Linked DNA regions of Homo sapiens: region 2 is linked to region 1. The links come from fine-mapping of genetic effects on gene expression. A gene starts in region 1. The other region holds a variant in brackets. All regions are shown on one strand. Distances are from middle to middle.

Region 1 (4,388 bases):
CTCACAATTTATGACAGTTTCAATTAGAAAAGTCTGGGTTTTATCCTTGTTTTCCTAATATTTTCTTTTCTTTTTCTTTTTTTTTTTAGACAGAGTCTTGCTCTGTCGCCCAGGCTGGAGTGCAGTGGCGTGATCTCAGCTCACTGCAACCTCTGCCTCCCGGATTCAAGCAATCCTCTGCCTCAGCCTCCCAAGTAGCTGGGATTACAGGCGCCCACCACCAGGCCCGGCTAATTTTTGTATTTTTAGTAGAGACAGGGTTTCACCATCTTGGCCAGGCTGGTCTTGAACTTCTGACCTCGTGATCCACGCGCCTCGGCCTCCCAAAGTGCTGGGATTACAGGCATGAGCCACCGCGTCCAGCCTTTCTAATATTTTCTTTAAAACGTCCCCTTTTTCAAAATTTTTTCAAATTCATGGAAAAGAGGATAGGAATTATGGTTAAAATTAGTACTAACTGATGACATTAACCGATTAATAACCAATTATGTTCTTAAAAACTGGAAATGATATACACCACTAGATAAAATAATCTTAAATGTTCATTGACTTTATAGAATTCTCTCAACATTACTTTTTGGTCACAGATAACTTCTGGGTTGACAAAAGCTTTTCTCCAGCGCCATTTCATACAGCTTTTACATGGCTGCACATCACTAGCCTGCTTTAAAGGACGGTGCTCCCAGCCCAAAGCCTCAGGAAAAAGACCATGGCTCAAAAAGCTCTGAGATGTATCCTATCCACCTGAAGAGCCTATTGCTTGCCTGTATCCCTCCCTTCTAGTGACACTAATCTTCTGTACAGAAATCCTAGTCCAGCAAACATTGCTCTCATCTTCGCCCATACACAACCTATGTAAAGAATGGCTTTCCTACTCTTTGCTGGCGAACTTCAGCTCCCGGATTAGGCATGCCACCTCTTCCAGGTAGCTCTCAGCAACGCACTTTTCCATCAGCCTGGGTGTGCCCCTCTGTGTTCCCATGGCGCTTTGCTTTCAGCGCTTCTCCCAAATTATGTTTACCTGTTTATTAGACTCTCCACCTCTGAAGACCAGGCCATTTCATTTGGCTTTTTACTGCCACGTAGTAGGTACCTGTTCAAGCTTGATGGAAGGACTTCCCCAGCCTCCCCACACATATTATGTAAAGTGATCGCTGTCTTTGCTTCCTCCTGGAGACCATTTATTTTATTTTTTTGAGACGGAGTCTCGTTCTGTCGCCCAGGCTGGAGTGCAGTGTCGCAATCTCGACTGACTGCAACCTCTGCCTCTCGAGTAGCTGGGACTACAGGCGCGCGCCACCACGCCCGGCTAATTTTTGTATTTTTAGTAGAGACGGGGTTTCACCATGTTGGCCAGGCTGGCCTCGAACTTCTGACAGCAAGTGATCCACCTACCGCGGCCTTTCAAAGTGCTGAAACTACAGGCATGAGCCTCCACACCCGTCCAGGAGCCCATTTATATGGGAGCCTGCTTCTAAAGATTATTACCTGGTGCCAGGGTATTTTCCAGACCTGTCCTCACATTCCTGTTAAACAGGAGGAAGTGAATCGCGCTCCTTTTCATCTACCTTCTCGGAGGGTTTATGCCTCCAATATTAACCTCAGCACAGCCAAAGAAAATCATTCCATTCCATTGAGCGGAGTCAGAAACATGACTAGGTCACGATCACAACCCCGTGTGTGCCAGGGTGACCGAGACTGGGTGACTTTATGGTGTTTCAACGTGTGGGTTTTGACTGATTATATTATGGGTTTTCCAGTCAAAAACTCAAAGCAGTGGATAAAGCACTTGCGACCTAAAATAAGCAATGGAATGAACAGGAAGGCGAAACCAGAGTTTAAAGCGGCAGGACAAACAGGAAAAAGGAAGAGTGAGGCAGGAAGGGTTTAAATGCAGGCTCCTCGGAGGACAAGTCGCCGCCACACCCCTGTCTGCCGTCCCGCCAGCCGCCCTCACGCGGCGCGGGAAAACGGTCGGCCTCGCCCTGGGCTCAGGTTCTCTCCGCCCGCCAGGCAGTGGGGTTTTTTTTTGTTTTTTTTGAGACGGAGTCTCGCTCAGTCGCCCAGGCTGGAGTGTAGTGGCGTGATCTCGGCTCACTGCAACCTCCACCTCCCGGGTTCAAGCGATTCTCCTGCCTCAGCCTCCCGAGTAGCTGAGACTACAGGCACGCGCCACCACGCCCAGCTAATTTTTGTATCTTTAGTAGAGACGGGCTTTCACCATGTTGGCCAGGATGGTCTCGATGTCTTAACGTCGTGATCCGGCCGCCTCGGCCTCCCAAGTGCTGGGATTACAGGCGTTAGCCACTGCGCCCGGCCCCAGCCAGGCAGTTTTAATCGAGCGCTCACAACCACTGAGACGCAGTGAAGCACCCACCATAAAATCCCAGGAGGCCGACCGCCGGTTCAGACTTTTTCTTTTCTTTAATCCCCGTCCAAGGGATCCGCCCTCACCCCCCACCCCAGCCACCCCAATTCCCTATTCCCTCCCCTTGGACGGCGCCGGGGAAAACAAGCTGCTCGAGCTTTATTTCTTCGGTGCAACCAACTCAGAATGAATTCCTCCGCCCCTGCGTGCTCAGTGAGTCGGCACCCTAGCAGTGAACTGCATTTAAAACCTCAGGAATTGAGCGAACTCTCCCAGTGGCTCTCCTCACCGGGATCCCCTTCCACGCCTCCTCCCCGTGCCGCGCCTCAGTCCGCACTGCTCATTGGCCGCGTGCCCTGCCAATCCGATGCACGTCGGCTAGGGCAAAGACCGCGAAAAAGCGCGTACACCTGGCTCTGGGAGCGCGCGCCTAACGCCAGCCAGCAGCAGGAGGCGCGCGAGGCACCACGGCCTGGCGGCCGAGAGTCAGGGAGGAACCTCATTTACATAACGGCCGCCCCTCTGTCTCCTGGCGGGGGCCGGAGTCCCGCCCCTCGTCCAACTTGAAATCTGTTGGGTCACGGGCCAGTCACTCCGACCTAGGCAAGCCTGTGGTGGAGCTGGAAGAGTTTGTGAGGGCGGTCCCGGGAGCGGATTGGGTCTGGGAGTTCCCAGAGGCGGCTATAAGAACCGGGAACTGGGCGCGGGGAGCTGAGTTGCTGGTAGTGCCCGTGGTGCTTGGTTCGAGGTGGCCGTTAGTTGACTCCGCGGAGTTCATCTCCCTGGTTTTCCCGTCCTAACGTCGCTCGCCTTTCAGTCAGGATGTCTGCCCGTGGCCCGGCTATCGGCATCGACCTGGGCACCACCTATTCGTGCGTCGGGGTCTTCCAACATGGCAAGGTGGAGATCATCGCCAACGACCAGGGCAATCGCACCACCCCCAGCTACGTGGCCTTCACGGACACCGAGCGCCTCATCGGCGACGCCGCCAAGAACCAGGTGGCCATGAACCCCACCAACACCATCTTCGACGCCAAGAGGCTGATTGGACGGAAATTCGAGGATGCCACAGTGCAGTCGGATATGAAACACTGGCCGTTCCGGGTGGTGAGCGAGGGAGGCAAGCCCAAAGTGCAAGTAGAGTACAAGGGGGAGACCAAGACCTTCTTCCCAGAGGAGATATCCTCCATGGTCCTCACGAAGATGAAGGAGATCGCGGAAGCCTACCTGGGGGGCAAGGTGCACAGCGCGGTCATAACGGTCCCGGCCTATTTCAACGACTCGCAGCGCCAGGCCACCAAGGACGCAGGCACCATCACGGGGCTCAATGTGCTGCGCATCATCAACGAGCCCACGGCGGCGGCCATCGCCTACGGCCTGGACAAGAAGGGCTGCGCGGGCGGCGAGAAGAACGTGCTCATCTTTGACCTGGGCGGTGGCACTTTCGACGTGTCCATCCTGACCATCGAGGATGGCATCTTCGAGGTGAAGTCCACGGCCGGCGACACCCACCTGGGCGGTGAGGACTTCGACAACCGCATGGTGAGCCACCTGGCGGAGGAGTTCAAGCGCAAGCACAAGAAGGACATTGGGCCCAACAAGCGCGCCGTGAGGCGGCTGCGCACCGCTTGCGAGCGCGCCAAGCGCACCCTGAGCTCGTCCACGCAGGCGAGCATCGAGATCGACTCGCTCTACGAGGGCGTGGACTTCTATACGTCCATCACGCGCGCCCGCTTCGAGGAGCTCAATGCCGACCTCTTTCGCGGGACCCTGGAGCCGGTGGAGAAGGCGCTGCGCGACGCCAAGCTGGACAAGGGCCAGATCCAGGAGATCGTGCTGGTGGGCGGCTCCACTCGTATCCCCAAGATCCAGAAGCTGCTGCAGGATTTCTTCAACGGCAAGGAGCTGAACAAGAGCATCAACCCCGACGAGGCGGTGGCCTATGGCGCCGCGGTGCAGGCGGCCATCCTCATCGGCGACAAATCAGAGAATGTGCAGGACCTGCTGCTACTCGACGTGA
Region 2 (4,388 bases), 88 kb after region 1:
ACCCTGTTAGGCTGCAGGCCTACCCCTAAATCAAATGACGATTTGAACTCCTGAAGGTGAAGGAGCCCCTAAATCCCAGCTCCCCCACGCTGGCCCCAAGTGACCCAATACATGCATATATAGTCTCAGAAATAAGAATAGCTCATTTCAGAAGCTGGGGTCAGGTGTGGGGTTGGACAGAGGGTGAGCCAAAGGCTAGCCGGGGTGGAAGGTGAGGGGCAGGAAGATACCCCAGAAAGAGCTGCCGAAGAATGGTGAAGATTTGTGCAGAGACTCTTATAGGCTTGAGGAGGTCAGACAACAGGCTGCTCTGTTTGTCTTGTAGGTAGGGGCAGAAAGGCAAATAGAAGGAAAGAATCCAGAGCTGATCTGCCCCACCCTCTGAGTTCCATATTGAGCCTTTGTAATCCAATAGTAAGATTCTCCCTGAGGCAACAGACTCTTATGTCTCCCCGCTTTCACAGCTACAGGGATTTCATACTTTAAACTCTGCACATGGAGGGAAAATAACAGGAAGGACATGCGCGGTGAGCTCTGTGACCTTGGGTCTCTTGTCGGTCTCAGTGCCTCTGCGCTGTTTCCTTGCACTTGACCTGGGTGTCCTGGCTGCTGCCAACTCCGGAGCCAGCTCTTGCCTCGGCTCACCAGCTTCTCCCCGCACCCCCTGGCTGCACTTTCTCTTTTTGATCTCTATGCTAACAACAGCCCAGGCAAGTCAGGAGTACCACGGGGCCTGCCCAGGCCCTTCTTCTGGATCTGGAGCAGGAGGGAGGAAGAGGCAGGAGCCCAGCATGTGTGAGGGGTGAAGCCAGAGGAGAACACTGGGAGTGCCCCCCGACTTGCTCCGTGAGGGCCTCTGCCGGGTCTGAAGGGCTGCTCAGGAAAACATGCACCTGAGCCAGTGGCCCTGGGGCTCTCAGCCTGCCTGGGAGCTGGGAGCCGGGAGCCACTGTAGTTTGGTTTTTGTGTGGGAGTTGCCTTTTATTTTTACCTGTGTATTTATTCATCTGGATTGTATGATAACTCTAAGAGGACAGGTCTAGTCTTCACCACTGATACAGTTTGGCTGTGTCCCTACCCAAATCTCATCTTGAATTGTAGCTCCCATAATCCCCACATGTTGTGAGAGGGACCTGGTGGGAGGTAATTGAATCATGGGGACGGTTACCCCCATGCTGCTGTTCCTGTGATAGTGAGTGAGTTCTCATGAGATCTGATGGTTTTTAAGGGCTTTTTTCCCCCCTTTTGCTTGGCACTTCTTGCTACCACCATGTGAAGAAGGACATGTTTGCTTCCCTTTCTGCCATGACTGTTAAGTTTCTGGAGGCCTCCCGAGCCCTGCTGAACTACGAGTCAATTAAACCTCTTTTCTTTATAAATTACCCAGTCTTGGGTATGTCTTTATTAGCAGCATGAGAATGGACTAATACAAACACTATCAGCAAGAAGTGTCATAATGGCACTGCCAAGGGGAGGTGCCCAGTGAGGCTTTCTTCAAATGAAAAGACAATATAAGCTTCAAGAGGGTGAGGTGGAGGGGTTTGCTGTTTTATTTATTGCTGTAACCTCTAGTCTGGGGGTGGGGATCCACTGTGCTATGTTAGAAGCATGATAAGGGAAAGAGAATCACCATCTTTACTGTTCCCATAGGTGTAAAAACCACTTACAGTTCCTTTGTCAGGAGTATTGGAGACCTATGTGCTTGTCACATAGTAGGTACTAAGTAAATATATACTTTTTATTGAATTAAGTAAGCATTTACCCTGATATAGGCTAGAAGCCTTTTTAAAAGGTTATGACCTGGAGAAAGTCATGGCAAAATTTTTGCAGAGCCCAAATTCCAGATCACTCCATCCATTTAACATTTACTGAGTGCCTACTATATGCTGGGCACAATAATAGATGTTTGGGATACAAAAATGAATCAGATATGAACCTGTCTTCAAGAGGGCCA[CAGG/C]AGGTTTTTTAACTAAGGGGAAAAAAAGCATTGCAGGAGTTGGGCAGAATCAGAGAGGTTGTTTAGAGAAGTGGATAAAAGCATGGGTCCTGGCCTCAGGCAGATGAAGTTTTAAATATTTATCTAAGCCTAAATTTTCTTATCTGTAATGAAGGATAATCATCATTTCTGTTTATTGTAAAGGTTGTTGTGAGAATTAAATGAGCTAATGCATGAGGCTCACTTTGCACACGGCATGGCTTGCACTAAACACAGTAAACACAAAGGGTCCTGATATGGTTTGGCTCTGTTTCTCCACCCAAATCTCATCTTGAATTGTAATCCTCACATGTCGAGGGAGGGACCTGTAATCCCCATGTGTCAAGGGAGGATGATGATTGGATCTTGGGGGTGGTTCCCCCATGCTGTTCTTGTGAGTTCTCACGAGTTCTGATGGTTTTATAAGTGATTGGAAGTTCCTCCTTCACTCTTCTCTGTCCTACCACCTTGTGAAGAAGGTACCTGCTTCCCCTTCCACCATGATTGTAAGTTTCCTGAGGCCTCCCCAGCCATGTGGAACTGTGAGTCAATTAAACCTTTTTCCTTTATAAATTACCCAGTCTCGGCTGGGCAAGGTGGCTCACACCTATAATCCCAGCACTTTGGGAGGCCAAGGTGGGTGGATCACCTGAGGTCAGGAGCAACATGGTGAAACCCTGTCTCTACTAAAAATACAAAAATTAGCCAGGTGTGGTGGCTCATGCCTGTAATCCCAGCTAATTGGGAGGCTGAGGCAGGAGAATAGCTTGAACCCAGGAGGTGGAGGTTGCAGTGAGCCAAGATTGCACCATCGCACTCCAGCCTGGGCAACAAGAGCAAAACTCCATCTCAACAAACAAACAAACAAACAAAAATTACTCAGTCTTGGGCAGTTCTTTAGAGCAGTATGAGAACAGATTAATACAAGTCCCATAGAAAGAGCAGTGTGTTTCACATGGGGAGGCAGTGGTCACAAAAGACTCCTCAGTGGGGGACTCAAGCGAAGTCTCCAAGGATGAGTGGAGGTTCAAGTAGGCAGAGAGGAGGGTGTGTTAGATGGGACGATGTCGAGGAGAACGATACACAGTTCTTCTAGGTCCAGCAGATGAAGGAGCCCCAGGAAGCCACTGGGGGAGGGCTCAGTGCAGAAGCTGCCATGACTACTCCCTACCCAACACACAGCCTTTGGCAGTTTCCGCTCCCCTCCATGGGATCTCTGTAGTGTCACCTATGCATTTAGAGCACCCTGAACCACCACACTGACCCCTAGGATGTGCTTCAGCTACATCCCCAAGCACATGGAAGATATGCACACAGCAATGGGGTGACCATTTGTGAGTTGTCAGACTTCAGCAGGGCGGGGCCAAACACCACCTGAAACTGCCTTGGTGCCAGGCTCTAAGCATTTCACCTATATTAACTCCTTTAACCCTCACAATGAGCCAAGAAGGTAGGTACTATTATTTGTCCCATTTTATAATTGGGAAAACAAAGGCACAGAGAGGTGATGCACTTTGCTTGAGGTCACATAGCTAGGAAATGGTGGAGGAAGGCTTAAAGACAAGGCAGTCTAGTCCAGAGGTGGGGCTTCTAGCCACCATCCTATGCTGAAAGCATGATAAGGGGTAGAGAATCACAGTCTTTACTGTTTCTATGGGTGTAAATACCACTTCAAGTTGCCTTTTGAGGAGAGTTGGAGACCTATGTACAGCTCACTGAAAATCTAAAGACTATCTGCACACTCTTCCCAGAAAACACAAGGTTGCAAATGTAATTCTAGTGGGTTGTGGGTCCCCTGAAGACTATCTGTGGACGCTACAGGCCTGTGAACTTGAGGTTAATGGGTGTGAGATTTCCAGTGTGGCCTGGAGACAGGGGTGGGGGAGGGAAGTGCGTTTGCTGGAGAGTGCCAAGCAGGGGGCAGACTGGTTCTGAGGCCATGGCCAGGCCCAGCTGAGCGCAGATGATGTGCTAGCCAGGCTGGCCGTGACTGCGTGCTGCCCAGCTCACTGCTTAGCTCTTTGGAGATGAAAGTGCTCGCCTCAAACTCTGAATCATCCCTTGCTATTTCTTTACATATTTTTGCAAGAAGGAAGTCTTTATTTGGAATGATTCACGAACATCTTATAAATCAAGAGATACACAAAACAGACTTCAAGGAGCTATAGAAACCTACAGAGACACAGAAGCTATAAAAACAAACTGTTTCCAAGGGCCCTGTGCTGTGGCAAAGCATGTCTCACATGCAGGGAAAAGAAAATTAAAATCAACCCTGTAAGAGATAGATTAGAAATCTAGTTAATATAATGCACAGCTATTTTCTTTTTTAATAAAGGGAGTCAAGGTAATACATACACATGATTAAAAAGTAAGAAATTTGGCTGGGGGCGGTGGCTCAGGTCTGTAATCCCAG

Evidence for each region. PIP is the estimated chance that this variant, and not a neighbour inherited with it, causes the effect. A credible set is the group of variants that fine-mapping cannot tell apart.
Region 2: its variant is the best candidate, but not a certain one, in a credible set for the expression of HSPA2-AS1 in tibial nerve (GTEx, PIP 0.68).

Annotation. Positions count from the first base shown.
Region 1 is chr14:64,537,660-64,542,047 of GRCh38, forward strand. It overlaps HSPA2-AS1 (HSPA2 and ZBTB1 antisense RNA 1), which reads right to left and starts at 2,709. Exons shown (of 4, transcript NR_110550.1): 1 at 2,658-2,709. It overlaps HSPA2 (heat shock protein family A (Hsp70) member 2), which reads left to right and starts at 3,082. Exons shown (of 1, transcript NM_021979.4): 1 at 3,082-4,388. The coding sequence starts at 3,191. RefSeq lists a silencer at 2,857-2,946 and an enhancer at 3,117-3,226.
Region 2 is chr14:64,625,193-64,629,580 of GRCh38, forward strand. No RefSeq gene overlaps it. Among named protein-coding and RNA genes, the nearest start is that of PLEKHG3, 77 kb to the right of the region's middle. The variant CAGG/C (reference allele first, on the strand shown) is at 1,955.